4 linked regions of the Homo sapiens genome follow. The protein of the gene in region 2 interacts with the protein of the main gene of each other region in a pairwise test. Each region holds a gene or a part of one and is shown on either strand. Other genes may lie near its edges. The genes, in order: KRT35, TBC1D30, GRIPAP1 and SNAP23.

Region 1 (8,337 bases), on a different chromosome or scaffold from region 2:
GCAAGAGTTGTGTAGGGAGGAAAAAGGCTAGAGGTCAGAGAAGGAGCAAGGAAGGAATCTTCCTTGGAGCTATAGCGGGCCTCCGTCTCTGCCAGGGTGGATTCCAAAGCATCTCTCTGTGAGGTCAAGAGTTGTGTAGGGAGGAAAAAGGCTAGAGGTCAGAGAAGGAGCAAGGAAGGAATCTGGGTCTCAGTGAGGCCTCAGAATCCAAGAACAGAAGCTCGGAGAATCAGAGTTTGAGCTAGGATGAACCACAATCAGACATCTCACTTGAGATGAGCTAATTAGCCCCTGTGGCTTCTTTGATCTAGAAAGTATCTCCCTGTTAGTGTCATCTCTGAGTAACTGATAGTTACTCAGAAGATGTATCTGCTTGCACAAATATAGGACCTACTGCCTGGACATGTCAGTTGCTACAGGTCTCTTGTCCTTTACCACTGGGGGATTTGTGACTGGAGCTGGTCCCTCATTCCCTCTTTTCTGCATAGAGAACCCCTGGTGCTCAAGAACATGGACCCCTGGAGTCCGCCTGTGTGGTCAAAGCATGGAAGCTGGGGAGCTTGTGTGCTCCTCGGCTTGGTCCAGAGGCAGCTCCACCCTGCCTTGGGGCTCACCATGCTGTGCTGAGCCTGCAGCTCAATCTCCAGGGCGTTGACCGTGCGTCTCAGCTCGATGATCTCTGCCTGGCAGGACTGCAACTGCTCTGAGCTGGACACCACCTGCTGGTTCAGCTCCTCACTCTGAAACATACACACACAGAACCTGGTCAGCCACACCAGGGACTTGGCTTCAGAGAGCTACAGAGGCCGGTTAGAATCATGAGCCAAGAAAGACATTCCCGATTCCCCAGTCCCACTCATTTATTTTATACTGGAGGGCATTGTTGCTCAGAGGACAGCAACCTGCCCAAGTGGGTCTGTTTTGACCTTGTCAGCAAGGTCAATTGAAGTGGGTCTGTTTTGACCTTGTCAGCAAGGTCAAAACAGAGATGGGACTCAAAGTTAGATTTCTTGATTCAGAGCCCCAGGGTCACTTCCATGTGAGCCACCACATACCCCTGTTGCACTGACTGTTTCCAGGTACCTACCTGGGTGTCCAACCAGTCTTCAGCATCCCGGCGGTTATTCTCCACCAGGGTTTCATACTGGCACCTCATCTCCTCCAGAACTCGGTTCAGGTCAACAGGTGGGGCAGCGTCCACCTCAACATTGAGGCGGTCACCAAGTTGGCAGCGCAGTGAGTTCACTTCCTATAGCACAGACCAGGATGAGTACTAATTCCCAGAGGGCTGCCTCCAAGGTTCACCTCCTCCTCATGTTCACCTCCTCCCCATGCTCACCCCTCCTAATGCTCACCTCCTCCCCATGCTCATCTGCTCCCCATGCCCACCTCCTCCCCATGCTCACCTCCTCTGCATGCTCACCTGCTCTCTATGCTCACCTGCTCCCCATGCTCACCTCCTCTTCCCTATGCACACCTGCTCCCTCATGTTCACCTCCCCCTATGCTCACCTCATCCCCAATGCTCACCTCCTCCCCATGTTCACCTCCTCCCCCATGCTCACCTGCTGTGCCGTGTTCACCTTTTCCCCCATGCTCACCTCCTCATGGTTCTTCTTCAGGCAGAGCAGCTCCTCCTTCAGGGACTCCACCTGGGCCTCCAGGTCAGACTTGCACAGGGTCAGGTCATCCAGGATCCTGCGCAGGCCGTTGATGTCTGACTCCACCAGCTGCCGCAGGGACACCTCCGTCTCATACCTGCAGGCATAGAACAGGGCACCTGAGTCTGCATTTCCTTTTTGCATCTAAGTCAGGCCTGCCCTCAGACTGTCCAGGTGCTGTGAGTCCTGCTTTTATGCCCCAATGACAGAGTACAGCCAAAACCCTGAGCTCAGGCATCACCTGTGTCCAGTTCTAGCAGCCCCCAACCACATGACAAGCAGGACAACTCACTTGGTCCTGAAGTCATCTGCAGCCAATTTGGCATTGTCAATCTCCACCACCAGCCTGGCATTCTCAGCCTTGCTGCATAGAGTCTGGAGATATGAAGAAGTTATTTCATTGCAAGAAAGGACATTCCACTTGTTGGAGCTCCCTAAAGCTGACAAGGGCTGACTCTGGAAGGAGGAAGTCACCCATCCTAGACCTCTGCTACTCCATGTGCATTGGAGTGTTATGGGCAGGCTCTAGGGATCAACTATGGAAAGTCCAGGGTTTCTTCCAGTGCAGTGTATCTGTGACCTGTTACTCAGGTTAGATAGCTGCATGAAAATGCAACAGGAAAGGCCTGGCATGATGAAATGAGGCTTCTTCCAATCTCCCTGTCTCCCAGGCCTACTGGGGGCCCAGGGCATTTCATTGCCAACAACATACCCCGGGATTCTCTGGTCATAAATGGTCCCTCACAGGAGCCAGCTATAACTTTGGGCCAGGCGAGAAGTGGATATGGGCCCTTGGCAAGAAAGAAACTTCTCTGACAGGCATTTTCTTCCCTGAGTTACTTATGGGAAGCCTGAACTGCACTGCACTAAATACATCAAACCCAATCCCCTGACTTTAAATAAAAGAGGAAATGAAAACTCAGAAGACTCAGAGGATTGGGCAATACCACCAAAGGTCACAGAGTTCATTCATAGACCTGATGTTCAAGCTCTGGCTCCAGTAACTGCCATCTGGGTCGCTTACCCAGCCTGAATCTCAGTGTTCTCAACTGTATAATGGGCTAATGATACCTCCCTCTTAAGGTTATTGGGAGGAGCAAATGAGGCCACAGAGATGAACATGCTTGGTGACTTCCAACATGCCCTATGGGAACAGAACTACCAATGAATGCTGGTGACACAAAGTTCCTGGGAATCCAAAGCCACTCTGAACCTCTTACCTTCTTCTGGAGCTCCTCGATGGTCCGGAAGTAGGACTGGTAGTCAGGGCACATGTAGGGGACCTGCTGCTCACACCACTCACGGATGCGGCTCTCCAGGCTGGCGTTCTCCTGCTCCAGCTGACGCACCTTCTCCAGGTAGCCGGCCAGGCGGTCGTTCAGGGATTGCATGGTCTCCTTCTCATTGCCAGTGAGGATGCCCTCCCCAAACCAGCCCCCACCCCCACTGTAGCTGGTAGCGAAGCCTCCAGCAGGGAGGCAGAGAGCAGGGAGGCAGCTGGTGGCCCTGTAGCTGCTTCTGCCCAGACCCACTGAGCAGGCAGAGAAACTTCTGGCCACAGGGGAGAGACTTGGAAGCTTGCAAGAGCTGCTGGAGTACATTGCGGACACACGAGTGGAGCCCCCACTGGCCCCTCCTGGGCTCTTGAGAGACCCAGAAGAGAAGCCGGCCTTGAGGCATTTGGAAGCCATGGCCCCTGCAACTCAGATGCAATTGATAGGTCTCTGAGGCCAGACACCCCAAAGCAGAGAAGCAGCTCCTTACCCCAGATTTATATCTCTGCCCCAGTGGGCATTGGTTGGCCTTTACAAAGTGTTTTCTCCTCATTAAAGTTAACACCACTTTCTATTAAAACCCCTCATTAACCTGTTATTTAGTTTCCTGTGAAAATTTACCAGTCTCATAAAATAGGAGCCCCATTACTATGTCAAGACTCATCTCCACCACCCCACATCACTGGGAAGACCAAGTCCCTGTCAGTTCTTCAAAGGGACCTGTCATTTGAGCCCAGACCTCAGCCTCCGCATTAAGCAAGCATGGGAGTTCAGCCACTGTCTTGACTTTCTCCAACTTTGACTTCTTTTATTGGCCTGAGGGAGTAGAGGAGGTCTCTGGGGTGCTCCCAGAAGATGGAAGGGTAAACTTGGTTGGTGCAGGAAGGCAGGGGTCTTGCAGCCAGGGAGACACAGAAGGCTCTTGAATTGGCCCAGAAAATATGGCTAAGGTGACCAATTTTCTTGGTTTCCCCAGGAATTTTCTGGCTTTAGTTCCGAAAGTTCCATATGCCAGGGAAACCTCAGTCCTCGGTAAAATGGGACAGCTTATCACCCTAGATACTGCAGAGCCCTGATGGACACTTCCCTACTCTTTCCCTTGCCAGGAAGTCTGTGCAGGTTGTAGAGCCTAAGTTCTAGCCACAATGCCTAGAGATCAGTTAATTGGACACCTGCCCATGATGACATCTAGGAGGGCATGTCTTCCCCAGCCCTGGTTGAGAAATGGAGAAGCCCTTCCTTCTGGCTGCCTGAATTGGAGCTCTTTTCACACAGCCCTATCAATAACCCGGCTGATGGTAGCAACCATCATTCACTGAGCATTTAGTACCCACCAGCCCCCACGCTGATCTGTCTCTATGCATTCTCTTATTCAGTCCTCACACAAACTCATGAGATTGGCATCACCAATAGCCCATTAAATAGAGGAGGCTTGGACTGTTTCAGGAGCCTGTCCCAGATCACAGCTGAAAAAGCATCTGTACAACTGTTCAAGGCATGCTATCTTCTTTAAGGCCTCACACACACCCTCCAACACAGTCGTGGATAGAAAGGTGCTGACTCCTACAGAAGGAGACAATGGTCAGAGTAGAAAATGGCTTACCCAAGGTCCACACAGGCTTCCCAGGGAGGCTAAAGCCCAGGCCTTGCAGCTCCAAACCACAGGCCCACCCCACTGCCTCTAAGGGCCCAGTCCTGGCCAGGCCTTCCCCCGAAGTCTGGCCCCTGCTCCAGCCCTGCTGTGCCCTCCCAGCTCTGAATGCCCAAGGCAGTGACTATTGGTAGATTTCTTGGCCTCCAATTAACTGACGTCTTCTGATTGTCTTGTGTTTCAGCCCTATTTTCCCAGGGAGACTGTAAGCATGGGGGCAAGGATTGACCTTGTACTTTTTTTTTAAATCTCTGTAGTGTTAAGCACAGTGCAGGGCTTCTAGATGTCTATGAATTAATTAATTAATTAAGTGATTTTTCCCACGGTGAATTGTGTTAAGAAAGGAAAGAAAGAATGGGAGGAAACAAAAGAGAGTAGGGAGCGGGGAAAGGAAAACACAGTCAATCTTAACTATTCCTACTTCTTTTTTTTTTTTTTTTGAGATGGAGTCTCACTCTGTTGCCCAGGCTGGAGTGCAGTGGTGCGATCTCAGCTCACTGCAAGCCCCACCTCCAGCGTTCACGCCATTCTCCTGCCTCAGCCTCCTGAGTAGCTGGGACTATAGGTGCCCGCCACCACACCCAGCTAATTTTTCTTTTTTTTTTTTTTTTTGTATTTTTAGTAGAGACGGGGTTTCACCGTGTTAGCCAGGATGGTCTCGATCTCCTGACCTCGTGATCTGCCTGCCTCAGCCTCCCAAAGTGCTGGGATTACAGGCATGAGCCACCACACCCAGCCTACTATTCCTACTTTTGTAAATGAGGAAACTGAGACTCAGAGATGGAAGGGGATCCGGCATCTCTGTGTAGGTGAGCAGCACCTGTCCAGACTAACCAGCCCCTTTGGCCAAGAACAAAGTGTTTTCTGGGCCAAAAGCCATTCTGCCCAAGGGAGATGGATCTCATAAACCAATTTAGTGCTAAAGTTGTGACTAAAAAATTCTTGATAAGATTTTTAGATAACTTTATAAAACATATATGTAATATTTTTCAAGCTGTTTTAAGGTATTTTGTAAATTGGTCTGATCTATTTCTGTTCCTTTTTAGCATGCTTTTCTTAAATGACATGATTATCTAGAACCCCTTATCAGCAAGAACTAACATTGTTTAGCACATTCCTAGTAACTTTCCTTACAGGATCCTTGCACTCTGCTCAGATGTGGTCCAGGCTGTCCCCAGATCATGCCACGGATACACTAAATACGGCCCTAAAATGCCCTTTGCCCTCCTTCCTCCTTTTTCTGCCCATCAAATCCAAATCTGCCCCAAAGCCTTTCCTGGTCACCCCAGCCCTCAGTGATTTCTCCTCTTCCCCAAAACTTGAAACCCTGCCCACACCCGCTCCTGCTATCCCAGTGCAGTTGCTGGGAGCGAGGGGGCGAGGTGTCTCCACAGCTGGACGTGAGCTCCTCGGGAATTGTGCCTGTTATCCACTCTTTGTTCCAGCCGCTTCCGCCACCCCTGCTCCTTCCTAGATAGGCCTGAGCCTTAAGATTGGATTAGCTGTGTATGCCATGTTCCGTTGTTATCTCTTTGTTGATTAATTGATGTGTATATGTGAATGAGAAAGGCAGTCAGATAGCATATCTGGAAAGTACAAAAAGGATCAGAAAAACCATACCGCCTTGAAATAAAACATCATATTCACTCTGCGGAAATGTTATTGAATGTTTTCTATATCTCTCTCCATATCAATGAAATAGGAGCCCAAAGACCTAAGAAGGCTCCTAAGTCAGCCGCCTGCTGTGTGACTTTAGACCAGTCGCCACCTACCCCCACAACACTGTTGAATTCTGGTTTGCTTGTTGGTCAGTGATTTCAATTGCAACTCAGTTAAGGGTGTGTGTGAGGTTGAGATAGGAGGTGTTTCCTAACTGATACATATGCTCTGGACAATGTAATTAAAAGCTAGGCAAGTATGAATAAATAAAGAGCTCACAGCCACACAGGGCTGATTGCGTGCATCAGATGAGGCTATGAGTGTGCCCTGTAAACTGGAGAGTGATCATAAAAAGGGAAAGCACTGTACAACACAAGGTGCTGATGATGTGATTACTTATCAGGTCATGCCCTGTGTGGTTCATCCACAGTGACAAGGCAGCTCAGCTGTTTCCCGGAGACTCGTTCCATTCCTGGACCCCTGCCTGTTTCCGCACAGAGGTACAATGCTCTCTGTGCACGCCTGGTCACACACTGGCCTCAGGCCAGGGTCAGGGGTGCAGACTTAGGCCCTAGAGCATGAGTGGAGCAGTGAGAGGGAAGGGGCAGGGCAGGTGAGAGAACCATGCCAACTGCCCCCCCTGCCCAAAGCTAGGTGCATCCTCTGAGGCTGAGGCCTTTGGGTTCACTCTCCAGCTCCAAGGACACTGCTGGCAGCACAGCCCTCACCATAGCATCCTGCCAGATACAAAGCAAAGCACTTGGCCCATGCAGTGGGGGTTCCTGTTCAACACTCTGAAGCCAGGGACTCTGCATTTGTAGTAAGAGCAACACTGATAGCTACCACTTTTTGGAAGCTACACACACACTGTCTCATCAGAACCTCCTGGCAGCCCCATTTCACAGATGAACCTGCTGAGACCAGAGAGGTCTCATGACATAACCGGGCATATAGCACAGAGTGGCAGAGTCGGGCTCAGTGCAGGATGCTCTGATGCTACCTATGCACGTCTTCTCCTGTTGTCTGATAAGTTTGCTGCACCTCTGGCTTGCTCAGCAAGTGATTGAAGAGTCCCATTTAGCAGCAAGTAGCTGATGACATGAGGCAGAGCCAGGTCATGGATGTCTTGGCCATGACCCAGAGGAGAGCCCAGAGGAGAGTGAGCACAAGAGAGGGGGAGGAGGGAAGAGAGACAGAGACAGAGAGCGAGACAGAGAGAGAGAGAGAGAGAAATTGTACTGAGAAGAGCTCCAGAGCCAGGGTCAGAATAGCCAGGTGATGGCCAGGTCTCTGCCACTCACTGCTCTGTGGCCTGGAACAAGTCACTGCCCTCTCTGGGCCTGTTTTCTCAAGTGAAGACTGGAGCAGGGGCAAAGGAACCAACCGTGAGGCCCTCAGACCTCTCCCAGGCCATGCTTCTCTGATCAGAGGGGTGTCCAGAGCTGGCAGAGTTAGGCCCCACCTGCAGACCTGCCTAACTCAGCCAGTGGAATCCAGGGCTCTGAACTCTGCTCCACAGTGAAGCCTGGCTGTCCTCTCCCCAGACTCCATGTCTGAGCACCCACCCCCACCCCACTGTCCCTGGCACCCTTCAGTTTGGCCCTATGTGCCTTGTTGGGACATGGATTCACCTGCCCTCCACCTTCACCTCCCTGCTCTCCCTGACTGCCCTCCCTGGCATGGCTGGCTGAGGATGGCTGCCTAGTGTTTGGCCCTCTCTGCTTGTTCCTGGGACCCCCTCTCCTTAACCATCCCCAGTATCAGGCAGCAGGGTGACAGCAGCTGGGCAAGAGAGGAGAAGCTGAAAGAAAAAGAGAGATAGCCACCGAATCCAGGTCGGGCTATGGATGAAGACTGGCTCTGGAGCCTTTGCCTCTTCTGGGGCCGCCCTAAGGTGTCTACTCACAGGCAGGGCCAAGCTGAGAGCTATGGCCGCACCCATCCAGACTGGGTCAGTGTCTGTTCTCATTGGCCAGCCTCTGAGGCATCTTTGTTATTAAATACTTCAAATCACCCTGCCACCGCCTCCCACTCAGAGCCCGAGAAGATAGACCTAAATGGAAACCCCACAACTATACTGCAGCCCCTGATCA
Region 2 (7,667 bases):
AAATATAAACCCAGGCCACTTGTAGCTCAAAAGCTACTTTAACTGAAATATTGTTGAAGTGACTCATCTTCACATTCATATCAAAGAATACGTTATTTCCACTTTGAGAATATATCTCAATGTGCCCTGTTGGTAACCCCAAAAGAAGAGTGTTTTCAAAATCAAAGTTACCTGCTGAAAACCATTTTGACCTAAAGATGGCTCAAGAGTGAATTTCAACTTGGTATCAACTCCTGAAAGAAAAATACATAAATAGATGTTATTTTTGGAGACTATAACAAGTTATATCAAAAATACTAGTAAAAGCTTGATTCTACTGAATCATCACAATTTTTTTTAAAGTATGTATCTTTACTAAATTTTAGTCAATTTTGCCAAAAGGTAAGCATATTGATTCTTAAAATAGGAAAATACCCTACAGCAATAGAAAGTGCCTTACTACATATGACGGTGGTTTACATAGATGCCTGGAGTACCACAAAAGCAAAAACAAAAACAAAAAATGACACCACAGGCTTGGAGTCATACAGTCCTCCATTCGACTTGGTTCCTAGACTGAAACAATTTATCTAACCTATCTCAGTCTCAATTCCTTTTCTTCTTTTTAAGAGATACAGTCTCAATATATCACCCAGGCTGAAGTATAGTGGCTATTCACAGGCACAATCATAGCACAATGCAGCCTTGGATTCCTGGGCTTAAGCAATCCTCCCACCTCAGCCTCCCAAATAGCTGGGATTATAGGCACGTGCTACCACGCACAGCTAATTTTTGTATTTTTTGTAGAACAGGGTTTCGTCATGTTGGTCAGGCTGATCTGAAACTCCTGATCTGAAGTGATCCACCTGCCTCAGCCTCCTAAAGTGCTAGGATTACAGACATGAGCCACGGCACCCGGCCCCATTTTTTAAAGGAATTATTGCCCAAAAGTTCAAGGACCAAGAAATGCCAAATACTATCAATAACATTAAGTTTTACAAATTTCAAAAGTCAAATGATGGCATTTTTGTTTCTAAGATTGTTGATTGTAGATTAGGTGTACTAAAAACTTCTCCACAACTTCCACTTCTTAGTGGTTGGTATGAATAGGAGCAATCTTCAGAATTTATGAAATAATAGTAAGTAATCAAGTAGACTGGTCTTTTAAAAAATATATATATACACGGAGTCAAGAAGCTGGAAAGAGATGTATCTGATTTTTGCAAGCCCATATCAGTATGCAGGTGTTCTTGGAACCCTGGAAGAGCGCTGTAAATTCCTGAGTTGGGTCCTAGGTTTCCAAAGTAAGCTGTGGCAGAGAATCCCAGGCATCCAATCAATGCCTTGATATTTCTTTTTAAAGCTTCAGGGCCATAACCATACTCTGCCTGGATAGATAAGTTTTTTTTTTCTCCGAAGGAATATTAAGTACCACATGGATCCGCCTCTCTCTGAGGTGGTTTAAACGAAGTCCTGCCCAAACATAGAACGGTGATAACAACGGCCACGGGAGTGTTTCCAGCCCAGCGCACGCTTTAAGGCACGCTGAAAACAAGTGAGGTTGCTGTCCGGACGCGAGGTGCTGAATGGAGGAGCGTATAATCATGACGTTTGCTTGATAACAAAGACCAGGAAATTCGGTCCCGCGCTGACTTATTCTTGCCACACTACAAGGATTCCCTGTATGTCTGACCAATATGCTCTTCTGACTTTTCCGGGGCACCTGCTGGGCATCATGCCGATTGCCTTCTCATAGTGAAACCCAGCAGGGGTTAGTTGGCCAAAACCACAACTATCCTCTCATGATCAAAAATGAGCAAGAGGATTTAACTGAAATTGATTCGCCGCCTGCATGCAAAAGCTTAAACCAGGTCACTTTCACCCCACTTTTCTTTTCTTCTAACAGAATACGGGCAGAGAGAAGGTTTATGTTTCATCTGATAATCACAGCTATTCCGGATTCAGAAATACAAAACACTTACTTTTAACGTGGGAAGGAGATTTAAAAGAAAAAAAAAAGAGGTAAAGGAAGATGGTGAATAAATACTACAGCCTCTGCAACTAGACACTTCCTAGGGGAGAACAACAAAGAAACCACGAGGTTGGGAAAGGCAGTGCCGCATCCCACCCTTTGGGACTCTGCAGCTCGATTCTCCTGCGGCTCTACAGCAGGTCCCCAAGGCGCTGGCGCTGGGGGGCGGGGGCCGGGGACCGTGAACCCGCCTGGAACGCAGCCGGTGCCACTCCAGGGAACAGGTGAGCGCCAAGCACCAGTGAGAGTACAGCCAACTCCCTCTGCAGCCACTCCTTGCCAGAAACCTCCGTGCCCAGGAGCCCGCGCTAGGGCCAGGCTCTTAAAATCCCGGGGAGGGATGCCGGGTGATGGAGCCGACACGGAGTTATGCAGTCTGGAGAAGCAGGGATGGGTAAACACAGGCTGACAGTGGGAAGGGCCTTGCCTAGCACGACCAGGCTCGTTCCTGGACCTCACCTATGAAAAGGATCTCCTGCTGCTCCCCACTCGCACTCACAAATTACAGGCTCCAGTTCGAGCTGACCCCGGCACTCACGCTGAAGGGACTCTTGGGAAAATAACACCCGATTTTGCCTTTGCAGCCACTGTCTTCCTCCTCCGACCTGCAGTGTCAAACCTGTGCCACTCTCCGCCCCCACACACCTCTCGCAAGGTCTGGCTTCCTGCGAGCCTGGAACACAATAGGTGGTGCGGCCTCTGAGGGCCCGGGCAGCCACCCGCACTTCCCCGCCACGCGGAGAAAGCCGAGCACACAGGCCGCAGGGTGGGGGTCCGCGGGGAGAGGGTGGAAGCAGCGGGTTCTCCGCGCCTGGGGTGGCCGCTGCCCCACCCAGGCCCCCGTCTGCCCTCTACCCTTCCAGACCAATCGCTCCCTGCAGGTGCCAACGCGGTGCCCCGCACCAGGTGGCACGCGGACTTTCCCCAGAGCTCCCCGGCCTAGACGGAGTCAGGCTAAGGCAGAAGCGCGGGCAGCCCCGGCGCTACTTTACAGCGCCCCATCTGCAGCCCTGGGGTCCTCACCCGGCTCCAGGGTGCACAGCAGCCGGGGCGCGGTCCGGGAAATGCAGCTGCGCTTCTTGAGCACATTGCTCAGGATGGTGCCCACGCCGCCGCCCTGCCGCTTCAGGCATCTCCCCCCGCGCCTCAGAGACCCGGTCAGCTTGTCCTGCCGCATCCGAGAGCGCCCCGGGCTCTGGCACGGCTACCGTCCGTCTCGGTCCCCGCTACCCCACTCGCTGAGCGGCTGAGCTCGCGGAGCTGGGTGAGTGTCTGCGGCTGACCGGCCCGTGGGAGCAGGGAGCGCACAGCCGGCTGGTGCTGGAGGGTCACGGGGACTTACGGGGCACCGCGGGAGCCGCCGAGCGCAGGGAAGCCAGCAGGCATCTGCAGTGCGGAGCCTGCAAGGCTGAGGCAGGAGATCGCTCGAGGCGGGGAGGGCGGGAGCGAGCGAGCGAGCGAGCGCGTGGGAGACGGAGGCGGCGTGCCCGCCCCCAATCCCGGCACCGCCGTGCGCAGGCGGGGCCGCCCCAGCTCCCCCGTGCCCAGAAGCGCCAGAGACAGGGAGCCAGTGGGCGCGTAACTGCGTTCGGGGACCAAAAGCAGAAACAGAGATGTCCGTGCTTCTCCCAAGATCTGGGAGGGAACAGAGGGAGCACCAAGGGGCGCCAGTCTCAGGGGCAGAACACCCGTAAGGGCAAGCATCCTCTCCCACTTCCGAGCAGTCTCAGAAGGGGCCATGACCCAACCGCAGGCGGCGAGGCACACGCTTCAGCCCGAATTGCGTTGAATTATTTCCTGGCAGATTAGAGAGGCGCGGAGAAAATGAAGGAAAAAAAAATTATTGTTTCTTTTAGAAAAATGGGCTTCCAGAAAAAAAGTGTTCTCTTTTCAAGCAGTATTAAAAAGTAATGTTCCTCATCTCTCCAGCCAGACTTCAGTAGTTCTGAACTATTGCCCATCATTATGGTTTAAAAAAAAAAAAGTCATTCTCAAACGGCAATATTCACCAATAGACTATTTACCATTAAAATGGATGAAAGAAAGGGTGTGGGGGGGGGATATAAAGATACTTGTGTTTGCTAATATTTATAAAAAGAAACACTAAATGGATAAACCAAAAACAAATTAGAAAACTTGTATAGGAGAAGGAACATCGTGGAGGAGACAAGAATGGAAAACTGAGTCCTCTCTTGATGTGCCTCCTGTAGTTTTGGCTCTGGAATAACACTATATTAATAATATTAACAAATTAAATTTTTAAAAAACCAGGATGATGGAACAGCATGCCTATAGTCCCAGCTACTTGGCAGGCTGAGGTGGGAAAATTGCTTAGCCCCAAGAGTTTGAGGCCAGCTTGGGCAACATAGCGAGACCCCATCTCTTAAAAAGACATAAAAATAAAAATAAAATTTGAAAATACATAAAATAGTCTGGGCACGGTGGCTCACACCTGTATTCCTAGCACTTTGGGAAGTCAAGGCAGGAGGATGTCTTGAAACTAGGAGTTCAAAGCTGCAGTGAGCTATGATTGCACCCCTGCATTCTAGCCTGAGCAACAGACCTAGTCCCTGACTATAAATGAATAAATTATTTTTAAATTGTAAAAGAAAACCCTAACAATTGAAAATTAATGGAAACAAATCAACCTAATGGACTATCCCACTTATAGCATAAGAACACAGAAAAAAATAATTCTCTCTTAAGTTGACATAGAACACAATATTATGACTGTACATCAACAGTTGTACATATTCCCAGAGCAAATAAAACTGCAAAGAAACCTTACATTTCATTCAGTAGTATTATTGTTATTAATAATATTCATATTTCTTAAATTCTTATATCCACTACAGGATAAAGCAAATAAATAAGTATGCTAACATCAAATGGAGCCAAGATGTTTTCAGTGTAATAGAAAATATGTGTATAACCAAAGTAATTAAGTTTTCTTTAAAATATTACAATTATATATTTATATGGGAAACACTAGTATGAACTCATTTTTTTTTCTTTTCAAAAAAATACATACATTCATTGAATAGGTTTAGAAGTAAGGACAACTCAGCAGCAATGAACACCCACAGCACCCAGGTTATGGTCTCTAAAAACCATTCCCCACTCAAAGGAACTAAGGCTCCTTTGAGGAGTGACTGATTCCAGGTTTGGGACAGAAAAAGTACAAGATGACCCTGAAACATTTTGATGAGCTCAAAAAGAAAGGAAATGTTTCACAATTAATGGGGTCAAGTCAAAAAGACACAAGAGTCACATAAATAGGCTCCTTCCTATTGGCCAAAGATGAAACAATTTGAACTTGAAAAACAATGGCTGAGCCTGGACAACATGGCAAACCCCCATCTCTACAAAAAAAAAAAAAAAGCTACAAAAATTAGCTGGGCATGATGGCACACACCTGTAGGCCCAGCTACTCAGGAGGCTGAGGTGGGAGGATCACCTGAGGCCAGGGAGGTCAAGGCTGCAATGAGCCATTATCGCACCACTGTACTCCAGCCTGGGTGATGGTGAGACCCTGCCTCAGAAGTAAAAACAAAAACAAAAAGCAATTAATTGCTGGGTCAGGTGCTGTGGCTCAGGTCTGTAATCCCAGTGCTTTGGGAGGCCAAGGTGGGACAATCACTTGAGGCCAGTAGTTCAAGACTAGTCTGGGCAAAATAGCAAGACCCTGTTTCTGCAAAAATAAAATAACTTAGCCAGGTGTGGTAGTGTATGCCTGTAGTCCTAGCTACTTGAGAGGCTGAGGCAGGAGGATCACTTGAACCCAGGAATTCAAGGTTACAGTGAGCTATGATTGGCCACTGCACTCCAGCCTGGGTGAGAGAGCAAGACCCTGTATCAAAAGAAAAAAAAATGGCTGCTATTGATTGAAAAAATATTGAATATTTTTAAATGCCTTCATAAAGATAGCCTAAACAAGCCAGAAAAAGAAGGCATTCCTATGACGCTTCCCAGAATTTGAGGACAATGTCAGAAATGGTGCAACCCTAAGAATGAGCTGTAAAAGAATCTATTAAAAATGAGATGAGCCATCTGCAAAAGTAAAGCAGGCTAATAAAGGACATGCAAGCTATTCAGTTGTAGCTGCCTGGCAGAGGTAAAGATGCTTTCAAAAGGGCAGTACTCTTTGAAAAGGCATCACTTTAGAAAATGAAGTCACTGTTTAAGCTGGTCATGACTAATTGCTTGGCTTAAATTTCCCAACCTTTTGCTGCGAGCTCCGGTACAGAAATTTATCCTCCATCAACCATCAACTTTTTACAGTTTTGGTACATGTTTGTATCCTTCAGCTTTGTATTAATTTTAATAAGACACTCATTGGCTGTTGCAGCCTATCTCAGTTGTACTGAGAGCCATAGGAAGAGGTCTGATGCTTCCCTTTGACCAGTTTTTTAGAGGGCACAGTATACCCTGGGGCTGAAGATGGTGATGAACACCCGAAGTCAAAGAGAGGGAACTGGCAGGAGAGGGAAAATCCAGCAGGACAAGTTGGTAACTGCATGCACAGTCTCGTCTTCCAGACCTCTCATATGCTCAAATCTTAGAGGGTTTTGTGTTCTATTTTAACAAGAGAGGCTATTCATGCTCGGTTTCCATCACTAGGCAAGCCAAGAGGACAAGCAATCAGCTCTGTTCTACAACACTGTCTCTGGAGTGGAGAGGAGGACGTCCTGCCCCTGGGGCTGTGACATATGCCACTCAGACCATCCAACTCCCTTTGGCTCTGACGTCATGCTCACCAAGCAAACTTTGGATTGTCATTTGATTTCCCATATAGACTCTGCTGCAGCACAGAGAATATACTGACCAGTTAATAGCAGTCAATACCCCTGAGTTCACTTACCAGTCAGTAACCTGAAGACACCAAATTTCCAGACTGCCAAAGCTGACATCTAGACTCTAGGCTGTCAACTCACCCATGTGTCATGACTGATAAAAAGACCTCTCTTTAGATTCTTCTTTACTTGTAATACTTTTCTTTACTAGTAGTGACAGAAGCTTGTTTGCTTGCAAAAGGAACATTCAATTTCACCTCTTTTAGATCTATTACGAGGAAAATCTAACTCTGTTTTTAAAATAAAATTTAAGAGTTTCTGCTATGATGGCAATAAACAGCAAAGGAATTAGATAATATTATTTTGTTTACATTGGAGAGGAAAGTCAGGACTGCCAACTTTTATAGCAAACAGATAATTACATGAGCACTAAAACACAATACTCTAAAAGCAGCGATGGCCCAAGCCTAGTATTATGTTGATTGTGTGACTCACAGTTTTTTATTTCATGTCTGGAATATTGTTTTACAAACGTGAAAGATGTCATCTAAAGTCAACTTACAGAGAACTCAAGCCAGCATGGACTTTGCCTGAGAATCTCAGGAGCCAGGCCAATTTACCATTATTCTTTACTAATCAAGCTTTACCAATCAAATAATAGTGAATTCACATTTGGGCAAATTATACACTGCCACAGTCTACAATGGTTATGACTTATGCTGAATTTAGGGGAAGGAAGGCTTAATGAACACTTCACATTGGATGAGATAATGTTATTTGGATTGCTAAAGAAAATGAAGGCTTTGAGGAAATGCCCCGAATGTCACAGAGCTAATAACCTGAGGACATCCCCCACAGATGTG
Region 3 (7,481 bases), on a different chromosome or scaffold from region 2:
GCCAGACATTTAAGGTTTTAAAAAAATCTTTGCTCATTTGTGGTTTTTAAAAAATGTACTACAATGAGCACATACTATTTGTGGAACAATAAAAAAGTTATTTCCAAAGGAAAGTGGCTGGTAAGGAGGCTGACATGACAGCCGGCAATAATAATTAGTGATCATTACAAGTTGGAAAAAGGGACCTTCTCCTTGGATGGTGCACCTACTATGAGCCACATAATTTATGGCACCAGAGAAGGGGGAATTAGCCCACAGATGATTAAACAGAAAGTCAGAGAGAGAGAATGACTGGCCTGTCCTGCATGTCGCAATCTGAATCCAAGTTGGTGGGCTTGGGGAAAAGTTGACAAGAAAATATGTGTGCTGCGCCCAAAGTAGGAGATGGGTTTAGGTGAGGAGAAAAGGGGAGGGGTTCTCAGATTTTTGGGTTGAGAGAAGCTGGAGCTGTAGGTTCTTCCTTTCCCCTTACCCTGGCTGGAACAGCCGAGCTCTCCTTTTCCCGCAAGATCTCCCGGTAGCTGAAGGAGGAGATGCTACTGCTGTCCCCTGTCTGGGTCCGGCTTGGTGAGTTCATCTCTGAGAGAACCAGCTCCTCAAGGCCTGGGTGGTGGAGGGAAGAGAAACTTGAGCCCCAATACCCCTGAGTCCCAGGGCAGCAACCAGCAGGAAGAGGCAGAAATAGATTTAACAGAGATGGAAAGAGAGACACCTGGGCATGGGGAAAGGCAGAAGCAGACAGGAGGACAGGGAGAGACAGAGACAGAAAAAAGAGCTGAGGCTGGGCGCACTGGCTCACACCTGTAATCCCAGCACTTTGGGAGGCTGAGGTGGGCTGATCACTTGATGTCAGGAGTTCGAGAACAGCCTGGCCAACATGAAGAAACCCCGTCTCTACTAAAAATACAAAAATTAGCCAGGTGTGGTTGTGTGTGCCTGTAATTCCAGCGATTCAGGAGGCTGAGGCAGGAGAATCGCTTGAACCCAAGGAGGCGGAGGTTACAGTGAGCCGAAATCGCACCATTGCACTCCAGCCTGGGTGACAGAGTGAGACTCTTGTCTCAAAAAAAAAAAAAAAAAAAACAGAAAGAAAAGAAAGAGCTGCCTTTCTGGAGAAACACATACAAAATGAGAGGGAGAAAATGGAAGAGGTTGGAGAAAGAGAACGACATGGGTACACATGGGTCTCAAGTGGCAGACACACTTGGACACAGGGTTCAGAGAAAGGAAGACAGCTAGAGAGGGCACAGGGCACATCCACTTGCAGAAAGAAAATGCCAGAGATGGAAAGCCAGAGCAGATGATAGAAACTGAGACCCTGGTGAAAGAAGTGAGCCAGAGCAGAGACAGAGAGAAAAAAAGATGCCGGGCGCGGTGGCTCACGCCTGTAATCCCAGCACTTTGGGAGGCCGAGGCGGGCAGATCACGAGGTCAGGAGATCGAGACCATCCTGGCTAAAACGGTGAAACCCCGTCTCTACTAAAAATACAAAAAATTAGGTGGGCGTGGTGGCGGGTGCCTGTAGTCCCAGCTACTTGGGAGGCTGAGGCAGGAGAATGGTGTGAACCCGGGAGGCGGAGGTTGCAGTGAGCCGAGATCGCGCCACTGCACTCCAGCCTGGGCGACAGAGCGAGACTCCGTCTAACAAAAAAAAAAAAAAAAAAAAAAAAGAAATGCAAGCAGGCTCTCGTACCCACGCACCTAAATCTCAGTTTAATCTAATGGACAAGGTGAATGTATTGAATGTATGGTATACGATTGTAACGTTTCCCAAGATTATTATTATTATTATTTTTTAGACAGAGTTTCAGTCTTGTCGCCCAGGCTGGAGTACAATGGCGCAATCTCGGCTCACTGCAACCCCTGCCTCCTGGGTTCAGGCAATTCTCCTGACTCAGCCTCCCGAAGTAGCTGGGATTACAGGCGCCCGCCACCACACCCAGCTAATTTTTTGTATTTTCAGTTGAGACGGGGTTTCACCGTGTTGGCCAGGCTGGTCTTGAACCCCTGACCTCAGGTGATCCACCCACCTTGGCCTCCCAAAGTGCTGGGATTACACCTTTCCCAAGATTCTTACATTCATCTGTGATAAAACAGAAACAAAACTCCTTTTTAAAGAAAGGTTACTTCAGGAGACCGAGTGCCTCAGAGAGAAATTGATTTGGTGAGAGATACACATCTGTTTTGCCACATCACTTAAAGCCCTCGAGGATCTCTGGCAAGGGTGGGGTGACTGAGTGGGGATCCGTAGGTATCCCGAGTGGGGGAATAAGGGACCAAGTTTTCTCTGAGTCTGTAATCTAAGAGATGCACCAGAGCCATCACTGCATTTTACTTACTTAAATGTATTTATAGGCCATCCCCGTCTTAAAAAAGGCTGAAGCAACTAAAGTTGTGTGTGTGTGTGTGTGTGTGTGTGTGTGTGTGTGTGTGTCTTCTGCTTGAAGTGGCAGAAATAACAGATTGGATTAGCTGTATAATGAAAACACCACAGCGTTGCTGACTATGTATAAGTCTGTCTCCGTAGCTCAACTGGGGGCTTCTAGAGGGCAGAGACTCAGGGAGTTTTATATCAGGGACCCTGTACTTGAGCAGGGAGATTTATAGAATGAGAGATTGTATACAATAGATTTAGAAATGCCAAGTGAGGTGTGGGAGTGTGTAATGTAGTACATACAGTGAGGAGACAGACAGAGATATAAACAGAAGAGACGAAGAGGACACAGAGTGGCGGGAAGAGATAAAGGGACAGAGAAAAGAAAGGGCGGGGGCCGGGCCCAGTGGCTCATGCCTATAATCCCAACACTTTGGGAGGCTGAGGCGGGCGGATCACCTGAGGTCGGGAGTTCGGGACCAGCCTGACCAACATGGAGAAACCCCGTCTCTACTAAAAATACAAAATTAGCTGGGCGTGGTGGTGCATGCCTGTAATCCCAGCTACTCAGGAGGCTGAGGCAGGAGAATTGCTTGAATCCAGGAGGCAGAGGTTGCGGTGAGCCGAGATCACACCATTGCACTCCAGCCTGGGCAACAAGAGCGAAACTCTGTCTCAAAAAAAAAAAAAGAGAGAGAAAAGGAGAAAACTAGAGAAAGAAAGCAAGGAGATAAAGGCAAACATAGAGGAAAGAGAGAGAACAAACTGAGACAGAGGCAGAGACAGAAACAGAGAAGAGACAGGGCAAAAACGAGAGAAAGATAGAAATAAAGAGAGAATGCAGAGAAAGAATCAGAGGAGAGACAGAGAAAAGGTAAAAGATGGAGTTCCAGAGCGACAGAAGCAGGAAAGCACAGCTGAGGAAGATGCAGGACTAACCTGCAGCCTGCAGGCCCAGGCCCTACCTCCCCCATGCCTCAGCCTCCTCTCCCTGTCCTAGTCCCTCACCTGAGCGGCTCTTGCTGTTAGTGAGGATGTCCTGCAGTCGCTCCTGCAGCTTATCTGCCCGTTTCCGCTCCAAATGCAGCTGCCGCTTGAGGTCCTTGAGCTGTGGGGGACAGGGGTAACATGAGGACTGAGGCCCAGTGGGCCCATAGGAGGGAGGCTACAGGTAGGAGGGAGCCGTGCTTGGGCACCGCTCTGTCTTACCGCAGCACTGCCCTTCTTCTCCAGGATCCTCTGCCCATCCACTGTGTCCTTCACCTCCTGTGGGAGAAAGCAGGCATGGCTGGTAGATGCCGGAAGGGCTGCCTGAAGCATGCTCCCTCCCTGCCCCTCCTGTACGCTGAGGATCAGGGGTGTGTCTGGGGCTGTGCAGTGACCACTGACCTGCTTCAGGCTGCTAATGGTCTTCAGGTGGCAGTCCCGCTCCTCCTGGGCCTGCTCGAGCTGATCCCGTACATCCTGTAGCTCCTCCTCCTTGCCCTGCAAAGCAGAAAGCAGCTTAGGCATTGGCTTGGGAAGCCTCTGTCCTCCCAGGAGGGCCCGTCACTGTCTGGAGAGAGGAACACCATCATGCGAGAGGCACCTTCAGCTCGGCAGCGTGCTGCTCCCGACACTGCTTGAGGGCTTCCTCTTGTTCCTGCTGCTGCTGCTGCAGGGATTCCTACAAGACAAGTCCCAGGTCTGGCCACAGCCCCCCAGAAGGTATCATGCCCAGTTAGGGGTATGAGGGACTGCAATGGGGGCCCAGAGGTATGCAGAAATGACCCTCCTGCAGGGAACCCCACACGCCCTTAGGCAATATGCTGAAGTGTCACATCTAAAGTTGCACCATTCGCATGGTTGACTTAGATTTGCATTTACATTTTATTTTATTTAACAAAACATAGCGCTTACTACATGCCAAGAATGTTCTAAGGGTTTTACATATATTAACTCATTTTCTATAATCCTCCCGTAATACCTAGATGGTAGATATTATTGTTACCCCCTTTTTACCATTGATGAAAACAGGCCACAGAGAGGTCAGATAACTTGCCCAAGGTCACACAGCTAGGAAATGGCCCAGCCAGGATTCAAACCTAGACAAACAACTGGCTCCAGCCTGTGCTCTTCACTGCTACATGACAATGCCTTTCAGTGTATTATGAGATTTCCAGAAAATGGCAACAAAGGTTCTTTTTCCGAGACAGAGTCTCACTCCGTCACCCAGGCTGGAGTACAGTACACGATATCAGCTCACTGCGACCTCTGCCTCCTGGGTTCAAGTGATTCTTCTGCCTCAGCCTCCTGAGTAGCTGGAATTACAGGCGCCAGCCACCATGCCCGGCTAATTTTTGTATTTTTAGTAGAGACAGGGTTTCACCATGTTGGCCAGGCTGGTCTTGAACTCCTGACCTCAAGTGATCCGCCCACCTCGGCCTTCCAAAGTGCTGAGATTACAGGCGTGAGCCACCGCACCCAGCAGGTTCTTGTTCAATAACATCAGTGTATTGCATTAATTTCCTGACAGAAGTACAGTTTCAGGAGAAAGAGGTGCCTTTCCAAATTTGCACAAAGGCAGGGCAGCCTTAACACGTGACAGTCTGTCCTATCTGATGGCCATCCCCTGATCCACTCCAGAGGGCTGCTATTGAGCCAGGGGACTGTGGGGATATCCCTAAGTCCAGAAAATCTCGGGAAGTTCCAGGGCCTGACCACTCCTGCTTCTGTGGTTTGACATGAGGGCCCCAATCAGCCTCTGTTCCTCACCAGGCATCACCAACTCACCTCGGCTTCCTTCAAGCGCCGTTCAAACCAGCCCTTGGCTCCATCCATGGAATGTACCTGAGCTTGAAGTTCTTCCACTGTCTGCTGGAGAGTCTCCAGCTCCCGTGTCCGGGCCTGGGATGGGGCAGACTGTCATGGGCCAGGAAGGCAGAGGAGCGGGCACCTGATGCATGCCACCCACTGGCCTATCAGCAACGCTGTGGTTCCCAGGTTTTAGAGGAAGAAGGGCATCATCATCTACCCACCCACCTTCTCCTCCCGGATCTGCCCACGGAGCTCCTCCTCCTGACGCTTCTTGTCTTCATGCAGCTCTCGGAGCTCACGCTCATAGCGGGCACGCACCCCCAGCACCTCCTTCTCATGCCGTAGACGAACTGCTCCCAGCTCTTCCTTGTGCTGGGACTTCTCTTGCAGCGTTTCCATTGCTAGCTCATCCAGCATGGCCTTCCGCTTCTCCGCACTCTGGGGGCCAGGACGATGGCAGTCAACTTCCTTCCACAACATCGAAAAAAGGCCTCCAACCCTCTTCCCATGCCCAAGGAACTAGCCAAACTCCACTCCCTCCCATCCCCACTGAACTGGCTAAGGCACTCACCCATCCTTATAGAACTGGTCACTTTCTTTCTTTCCCCTCCCACTCTCATGGATTTGGCCAAGAAACTGGTCAACCAGAAACCAGTCAATTTTCCTTTCCCTCCTATCCCCACATGTTTGGTTATATCACCTCCTCCCATCCCCATGGACTGAGCCAATTCCTACCCCCCATCCTCTCCCTTCAACCCTCATGTTCCCCTACCTTCCGAGCCTCCTGTAATTCCTGGGTCAACTGCTCCTTCTCCTGCCCTATTTCTTGAAGTTGTTCCAGCAGTCGACTATTGGCCCGTAATGACTCCTAATGCAGACACCAAAGGGAAAGAGTTTGATAAAGAGCATCCAGTAGGTGCTAGTCACCCAGGACCATCTGGTAGACCATCTCCCTTCTCCCTGGTAAAGTTGGTATTGTGATCTCAATTTCTGGATAGGAAATATAGCAGAGACTGCTAGTTGCTCCCCAGTATTCATTCTTCCTTACTTCCCTAGCAATAAAATTTATCATCGGGCATACAGCTGTCTAGCAGATGTTTCCCCTCCTCCCTTATGGTTAGGTGTGGCCATGTGATTTATTTCTGTATGTGGAAGTGGTGAGTGTAATTTAGGTTATGCTCTTAAAGGAAAGGGGCACACTCTTCCCTGCCCCTTTCCTCCTTCCTTCCAGATAGAATACAAACATGATGGTCGGGGAGTTTCAGCAACCGTCTTGGATGCCAAGATAAAAGTCTTGTGTTGAAGGTGGAGGAACAGCAATGGAGAAAGAACCTGGGTCACAGATGACTGGAAAGCCATCATTCCATCCCTGAATAACCTACCTGGACTTTTAATGAGAGGGAACTAAATTTGTATCTTATTTAATCTACTATTATTCTGGTTTCTATTATGGAATCAGAATGGATATTGCTTGGGAGGCTGAGCCGGGTAGATCTCCTGAGGTCAGGAGTTTGAGAAGCCTGACCAACATGGTAAAACCCCGTCTCTACTAAAAATACAAAATTAGCTGGGCGTGGTGCCAGGCGCCTGTAATCCCAGCTACTCCGGAGGCTGAGGCAGGAGAATCGCTTGAACCCAGGAGGCGGAGGTTGCAGTGAGCTGAGATCGCGCTACTGCACTCCAGCCTGGGCAACAGAGTGAGACTCCATCTCAAAAAAAAAAAAAAAAAAAAAAAAGGAGCCGGGCGTGGTGGCTCACGCCTGTAATACCAGCACTTCGGGAGGCCGAGGCGGGCAGATCACGAGGTCAGGAGATCGAAACCATCCTGGTTAACACGGTGAAACCCCGTCTCTACTAAAAATACAAAAAATTAGCTGGGCATGGTGGCAGGCGCCTATAGTCCCAGCTACTCGGGAGGCTGAGGCAGGAGAATGGCGAGAACACGGGAGGCGGAGCTTGCAGTGAGCCGAGATCACGCCACTGCACTCCAGACTAGGTGACAGAGCAAGACTCCATCTCAAAAAAAAATTAAATTAAATTAAAATTTAAAAAATGAAAAAGAATTGATATCCTAACTAACTGAAGAGGCTCAGTTTCAGAGAAGTGAAATGACTTGTCCCAGAACACACAGGTGCTAATAAGTTAGGGAGCCAGACTGGAACCTAGGTCCTCCTGACTCCAGTCTTCCCACTCCACCTTACTGGGGACTTCACTGGGCCATTACTAGGGAACTAGGAAGAGACAGGCCAGAGCCAAAGGTGTTACCTGGAGCTGGGAGTTGAGGTCATCTTTCTGTCCCATAAGGTCCTCG
Region 4 (7,481 bases), on a different chromosome or scaffold from region 2:
AGCATTCCAAAATATGTAGAAAAAAAAATCTGATCACAGGCCAAATTCATGATGCTATTCTATCTTTAAAAATTGCCAGCTCAGGCCGGGCACAGTGGCTCATGCCTATAATCCCAGCACTTTGGGAGGCCGAGGCAGGAGGATTTCTTGAGTACCGGAGCTCAAGACCAGCCCAGACAACATAGTGAGACTGTTTCCATTAAAGGAAAAAACAAAAAGAATTGCCAGCCTATCCTTCCCTTTAAAACAAAACAATGGCCGGGTGTGGTGGTTCAAGCCTATAATCCCAGCACTTTGGGAGGCTGAGGTGGGCGGATCACGAGGTCAGAAGTTTGAGACCAGCCTGCCCAACAAGGTGAAACCCCATCTCTACTAAAAATACAAAAATTAGCTGGGCGTGGTGGCACACACCTATAATCCCAGCTACTCAGGAGGCTGAGGCAGGAGAATCGCTTGAACACAGGAGGCAGAGGTTGCAATAAGCCGAGATCGCATCACTATACTCCAGCCTGGGCAATAGAGTGAGACTCCGTCTCAAAAAAAAAAAAAAAAAAAAAAGTAAGTTGATCACTACATTTTTAGTTATTTTCAGGCGCTCCTTAAGAGAAAATGTGTAAGGACTTCCAGTGTGATGTTGAAAGAAAAAGTTTTTTTAAAAAAGAGAATATTTGGATGGTGAAGTTCATGGGAATAAAAATTTAATGTAGGTAGAAATCTAAGTAAATTACAGATATTAGGAAATTGTTAAATAGAAGTCTAGCATTTCTCAAATACATAGTAGAGTATCTTTGTTACACTTAAGTAATATTAATAATTACCTAAAAAATAAAAATCATACAAATTGTTTTCACTTTAGTTTTCTGGTGAGTTAAAAAGAAAATAAAAACCAGCAATGGCACTAAGGAGCAAATGTGTTCTTTGATATTAATGGACTAGGAAGAGGCCAAAATGTCCCTAAGAAGGCTCTCTCACTCCTCCAATATGAAAACTGAAATAGAATTATTTACTTATTTTAGGTAAAACATTTACCTCATCAGTAATCTGGTGAGCTCTCTGTTGAATTTCTTCTGATGACAGATTATCCATGATGAATCAAAACTCTATTAGGCACAGAAATGGAAATGTGGATATTGTATAAGAATAAGGATATATAAAAGTTTGTGTGAGCAAAAAGTGTAGATTTATGGAATTTAGGAACTTATCAGGAAAACAGGATAAAAGAACCTCTTTCTATATCTATTAGTCTACCACAAGTAAAGAAATCAAGACCGAGAGAGGCTAAATGAATGTTTAATAAGAGTGCCAAGGGTGAACCTAAAATACAGGTTTTAGGACTTCTAGGGAAGTACTCTTTCCAACAGGAAAGTGGATCCTCTACTTAGAGAAGCAAGGCATTACTGGAAGACAAGCATTAAAAGACTATTAAAGTGAATTTTTGGTTGTTCAATGTTCTTCATGTGTTGTCTGAACATGGAAAAGCAGTAGGTGAAGAAAAGTCCAATTTAGTAAAGTAACAAAATTTGAAGTTATGTGCCTGAAGAACACAGGAAACATTTCTAAATATGCCAGTTGTCCAGGACACTCACTGGAGAAAATACTTTCACTCTTAACAAGAAAAGGGAAATGCTGGTACAAACAGCTCGGAAAAGACTAAGGTTTTTATTATGCATTAGACTCTTCCCCTCCAGTGGCTTATATTGTTTTGTTGTTTTACTGGAGTCCCTAAGAAACCAAACAATTATTCTCCTATACACAGTAACTCAGAAGGAGATCTCATAGACATCCAAGCTAAAAAATAAAACATTTCGTAGGTGTTACTCAGCACGGCTGTTATCTAATTCCTCTTTGAGAAGTCATGTGGAGTAATAACAAGCATTGTGCAACGGATCTAGGTTCTTTGTTACATTTGCTAGCTTTGTATGAATTTTCTCAAAACTCATTTATCAAAACTCACGGTCAATGACACAGATAAACTCTGGTTCTTATTACAGATTTGACCCCAGGAATCTGGCAATGTCTGGAGTTGCTTGATTGTCACAACTTGGGCCAGGTGATGGGGCTGGTTAATGGCATCTAGTAGGTAGAGGCAGGGAAACTGCTTAACATCCTACAACACTCTTCAGGAAAGCCCTCCAGCAAAGAATAATCTGACCCAAAATGTCAATTTGAGGTGAGAAACCTTGCCATGGATATACTCTTTGATAAGCAGAAAACTTAATTCCCCAAGAATGTACTGGACTGAATTCTTGGAAGGCAGAGATTTTATCTTTGTATCTCTAACACCTAATAGGATCTGATGGTAGATACTCCAAAAATAGCTGAATGAACAAATAAGTAGAAAAACAGGGTGTACTCTCAAAGTATTTACATGGCTCTTAGAAACAAAGCTGCATGTAACAGTAGCACAAAGCTCGCAAAGAATCACTAGAGCCACAAACCAAAAACTGCTATTGCAAGTGTATGATATGATCACATATAAATCTTTTCAGTCATTTTTGGCTGGGTGTGGTAGCTCATGACTGGAATCCTAGCACTTTGGGAGGCTGAGGTGAGTGGATGGCTTGAGCTCAGGAGTTGGAGTTCAGCCTGGGCAACATGGCAAAACCCCATCTCTACCAAATATACAAAAATTAGCCAGGCATGGTGGCGCACACCTGTAGTCCCAGCTACCGGGGAGGTTGGGGTGGGCGGATTGCTTGAGTCCAGGAGGTTGAGGCTGAAGTAAGTCAAGATCATGGCACTGCACTCCAGCCTGGGTGACAGAGCAAGACCCTATCTCAAAAAACAAACAAACAAAAAAATTTAAATCTTTTCAGTTGTTTTTAATTGAACCACTACTATCATGTTATTTTTTTTATTTTTTTGAGATGGAGTCTCACTCTGTTGCCCAGGCTGGAGTGCAGTGGTGTAACCCTGACTCACTGCACCTTCTGCCTCCTGGGTTCAAGCAATTCTCCTGCCTCAGCCTCCCAAGGAGCTGGGATTACAGGCATGCACCACCACGCCCCACTAATTTCTGTATTTTTAGTAGAGATGGGGTTTCACCATGTTGGCCAGGCTGATCTCGAACTCCAGACCTCAGGTGATCTATCCACCTCAGCCTCCCAAAGTGCCCAGATTGCAGGCCTGAGCCACCGTGCCTGGCCTTGTTTATAATTCTACTGTCATAGCTGTTTTATGGTTTAAGATTTTGAGGGCCAGGCGCAGTGGCTCACGCCTGTAATCCCAATACTTTGGGAGGCCGAGGCGGATGGATCACGGGGTTAGGAGATCGAGGCCAGCTTGATCGACATGGTGAAACCCCGTTTCTACTAAAAATACAAAAATTAGCCGGGAGTGGTGGTGAGCGCCTGTAATCCCAGCTACTCGGGAGGCTGAGGCAGGAGAATTGCTTGAACCTGGGAGGCAGAGGTTGCAGTGAGCCAAGACTGTGCCACTGCACTCCAGCCTGGGTGACAGAGCGAGACTCCATCTCAAAAAAAAAAAAAAAAAGATTTTGAGCCTTGATTAAAGCCATTAGTGCTCATGAAAAAAAGCATTTTAAGTTCCAAATTTAAGTTTCTATCTTGCTTGCCATAGACTGTGCTTCAGGCAAAAAGTTTCCACACTAAGATATAATCAAGATATAAAGATATCATTCATTAGATACAAGCATAAAAGGAACCAGGTATTTTATTAATTTGCTAATTGTTTGAGTCTTAAGCTTTATCATACATACACATGTCCATGCTACTGTTCCTCTTTTGTCACTCTTTCCTATTTGCAACTACAAAAAGTAAATGGAGATTATTTTTTGTACCCTCTCACCTCCACACTTTTGCACACCTTTCCTTTCTATAATACCCCACATCTGCCCAGGTAGCCTCATGCTTTTCCATCACTTCCTAAAGCCCCAACCGAGATACCTCTCCAAAGCCTGCCCTCCCCAGGCAGTAATGCTCTGAAGTTATCTATTCCTGTCATGTGTAACTCCTCAATGCCCGACAGAGAAGAAAATATGAAAAATAATATACACTAATCCATTAGTGCCTGGAAAAGGCACCCTTAGTGAGGTTTTCAGATATAGTATCCTGTGGGTCGGGAGACATTCTGGGGTAAGGAAGCCCAAATATCACAAATTATGTAATTTTGTAATTCTATTCCTAGAGGTGATTATTGCCAATTACAAGTCAGTCTTTGCTAGCTTCCTAGGAAAAAAAAAGCAAAACTCCAGAGTTAGGAGTGAATGCACTCCTGACCTCTGTGCTGCCTTCTTTAAAAGAAAAAAGAAAGCAGATATAACTGGGAGATGGATAACGTGAGGAATCACCCCTGACATCGCAATGAGGTCATTCTGAAGGACACATCCTTTCCATGTGAACTCGAAGTTCTGCTTAATATTTTTTTCTTCCCTGACCAGACAACACGCAAGACAAGTAACAGATATCTACTCCCAAGTTTGGCATGCTAACGCCAGGATGCAGCTGCCTAAGATTACTCTGTGTTCTTGAGGGTTTTGAGCACAAGTTTAGTGTGGCTGTCGCTCAGAGGGTTGGATTCAGTACTGCCTGTGGATACCAATTGGCCCTGAGGAACCTGCAGATATAAAAGTCCGCCCTCTGTAGACGGGAGTTTTGCATGTATGAATACCGTATTTTCTTTTCTTTCTTTCTTTCTTTTTTTTTTTTTTTGAGGCAAGGCTTCACTCTGTCATCCAGGTTGGAGAGCGGTGGTGCAATCAGGTTCACTACAGCCTTGCCCTCCCAGGCTCAAGCAATCCTCCCATTTAGCCCCCTGAATAGCTGGGACTACAGGTGCATGCATCATGCCCGGCTAATTTTTAAGCTGTTTTATAGAGACAGGGTCTCACTATGTTATCCAGGCTGGTCTCAAACTTCTGAAACTTTTGGGGTCAAGCAATCCTCCCACCTCAGCCTCCCAAAGTTCTGGAATTACAGGGATGAGCTACCGTACCTGGCTGAATACCATATTTTCTATCTGCATTTGGTTATAGATGTGGAACCTGCTGATACGGAGGGCTGATTGTATTTACTGAAAAAAAAATTTACCTATAAGTGGACCCACGCAGTTCAAGCCCATGTTGTTCAAGGGTCAACTGTATATGAAAGTAACAGAGTCAAAGTAGAATTGTAAGGGGAAGGACAAAGACAGACAAGGAATAATACTCCTCAAGTTCTTATTGGTCTTTGTAAGTTTGCTGAGACGAGTCAGAGAGAATGTAACCTATAATTAGCTACATAGCCTTACTCATATTTATTATTCTCTGCAGACATTTTCCTTACGGAATCAGGAAAAGGTTACCCAGAATATTACAGAAAAGAGAACTGGTGGGGTGGGATGAAAAATAAAACATCAGTTGATACAAAGATGCCATTAAACGTACTTTTCTCAGATTTAATCTAATCTATTAAATACTTGTGTCATTTTTCCAGTGCTGCTGGGAACTTATACTATGCTAATAGTGTGCCTTTCAGAGGAAAATGCAAGATTTTTCTCAGTGCTTTTACACCCTATTTCTCATGCTATGGTTCACTTGGGCTTACTAAAAGACTCCTAATTTGACCTTTTTCTTTTCTAATTTAAACCTAGGCAGGGAAAGAAAAGTTCACTGAGTACCTCTTAGGCACCAGATACCCTACTAAGTATTTATCTACATCATTATCTTCATTATACTATTTTACAGATGGAGAAACTAAGGCTCAGTTTAGGTAACTTACCCAAGGCGGCTGTGTCAGTAAAGAGCAGATTGATTATTCAAGTCGGGATCTACTCGCAAATTAAGTATAATTCATGGTCTGATAAAGAGTCTTTCTGGAGCTGGGAGTGGTGGCACACGTCTGTAATCCCAGTACTTTAGGAGGCCAAGGCAGGAGGACTGCTTGAGGCCAGGAATTCAAGACCAGCCTGGGCAACATAGTGAGACCCGTTCTCTACAAATAATCAAAAAATTAGCTGGGCATGGGGCGCATGCCTGTAGTCCCAGCTACTCAGGAGGCTGAGGCACAAGAATCACTTGAACCTGGGAGGCAGAGGGTACAGTGAGCCGAGATGGCATCACTGTGCTCTAGCCTGGGCAACAGACCAAGACCCTGTTTCCAAAAAAAAAAAAAAAGTTTTTTCTGTTGACTGTATCCACCGCCCCCTTAACAAACAATAGATCATATGAGAGCTGCTGAATATTGGAAAATAGGTCAAGCAATCCTATATGATGGCTCATTTCAAAATTTCAGATGCTTTCTATAAGACCATGAAATTTTATCTCTTCTACAGACTCAAAGAAGACAGTTAAATTGAAGGAGAAATAGACCACAGTAATCATGGTTTTCAACTGTCTTCTATTATTTCAGAAGCTGAAAATAATCTACATTAATTTAGAAAATGAAAAGAAGTCTATTGGCTAGGCACAGCGGCTCATGCCTGTAACTCTGGCACTTTTGAGGGCTGAGGTAGGAAAACGGCTTGAGGCTAGTTTGAGACCAGCCTAGGCAACACAACAAGACTCTGTCTCCACAAAAAGTAACAACAAAAATAGCCAGGTGTGGTGACCAGTGCCTGTAGTCCCAGCTACTTGGGAGACTGAGTTAGGAGGTTCACTTGAGCCTGGGAGTTCAGGGCTGCAGTGAGCCATGATCCCCACTACACTCCAGCCTGCCTGACAGAGCAAGACCCCAAAGAAAGAAAAGAAATGGGCCGGTCACAGTGGCTCACGCCTATAATCCCAGCACTTTGGGAGGCCGAGGTTGGCGGATCACAAGCTCAGGAGTTCAAGACCAGCCATTGCCAAAATGGTGAAACCCCATCTCTACTAAAAATACAAAAATTAGCCAGGTGTGGTGGTGGGCGCCTGTAGTCCCAGCTACTCGGGAGGCTGAGGCAGGAGAATCGTTTGAACCCGGGAGGGAGTGGTTGCAGTTAGTCGAGATCATGCCACTACACTCCAGCCTGAGTGACAAGAGCAAGACTCTGTCTCAAAAAAAATAAAAAAGAAAGAAAAAAAAAGAAAAGAAAAGAAAGAAGGAAAAGAAATGGAAGGGAGGGAGGGAGGAAGGGAGGAGATAAGAAAACAAGCAAGCAAGAGGCCAGGTGCGGTGGCTCACGCCTGTAATCCCAGCACTCTGGAAGGCCAAGGTGGGCAGATCACCTAAGGTCAGGAGTTCAAGACCAGCCTGGCCAACATGGTGAAACCCCGTCTCTACTAAAAATACAAAAATTAGCCAGGCGTGGTGATGCACACCTATAATCCCAGCTACTCAGGAGGCTGAGACAGGAGAGTTGATTGAACCCGAGAGGCAAAGGTCGCAGTGAGCCGAGATCATGCCACTGTACTTCAGCCTGGGCAACAGCAAGACTCCGTCTCAAAAAAAAAAAAAAAAAATGCAAGCAGAAAGGAAGTAAAAGAAAAGAGAAGAAAAGAAGAAAGGAAAAGTAAATGAGCTTCTTGGAAAGAAATACACAGAAAAAAGGCCCTGGAATTTAAATAA

What was found.
Region 1: the proteins of TBC1D30 (region 2) and KRT35 interact in binary tests that used the Homo sapiens proteins (3 or more experiments, as listed by UniProt).
Region 3: the proteins of TBC1D30 (region 2) and GRIPAP1 interact in binary tests that used the Homo sapiens proteins (3 or more experiments, as listed by UniProt).
Region 4: the proteins of TBC1D30 (region 2) and SNAP23 interact in a two-hybrid assay, tested with the Homo sapiens proteins (one study listed by IntAct).

What each region holds. Positions count from the first base shown.
Region 1 is NC_000017.11:41,477,747-41,486,083, forward strand, and holds the start of KRT35 (keratin, type I cuticular Ha5), read right to left. Parts: upstream 3,406-8,337; 5' UTR 3,352-3,405; coding exon 2,881-3,351; intron 2,036-2,880; coding exon 1,953-2,035; intron 1,758-1,952; coding exon 1,601-1,757; intron 1,250-1,600; coding exon 1,088-1,249; intron 741-1,087; coding exon 615-740; intron 1-614.
Region 2 is NC_000012.12:64,820,401-64,828,067, reverse strand, and holds the start of TBC1D30 (TBC1 domain family member 30), read right to left. Parts: upstream 3,422-7,667; 5' UTR 3,189-3,421; coding exon 3,035-3,188; intron 234-3,034; coding exon 172-233; intron 1-171. UniProt on the Homo sapiens protein: May act as a GTPase-activating protein for Rab family protein(s).
Region 3 is NC_000023.11:48,977,833-48,985,313, forward strand, and holds part of GRIPAP1 (GRIP1-associated protein 1), read right to left. Parts: coding exon 7,436-7,481; intron 6,039-7,435; coding exon 5,943-6,038; intron 5,609-5,942; coding exon 5,396-5,608; intron 5,261-5,395; coding exon 5,147-5,260; intron 4,041-5,146; coding exon 3,963-4,040; intron 3,860-3,962; coding exon 3,764-3,859; intron 3,641-3,763; coding exon 3,584-3,640; intron 3,483-3,583; coding exon 3,383-3,482; intron 604-3,382; coding exon 473-603; intron 1-472. UniProt on the Homo sapiens protein: Regulates the endosomal recycling back to the neuronal plasma membrane, possibly by connecting early and late recycling endosomal domains and promoting segregation of recycling endosomes from early endosomal membranes.
Region 4 is NC_000015.10:42,505,452-42,512,932, reverse strand, and holds part of SNAP23 (synaptosomal-associated protein 23), read right to left. Parts: intron 1,101-7,481; 5' UTR 1,087-1,100; coding exon 1,030-1,086; intron 1-1,029. UniProt on the Homo sapiens protein: Essential component of the high affinity receptor for the general membrane fusion machinery and an important regulator of transport vesicle docking and fusion.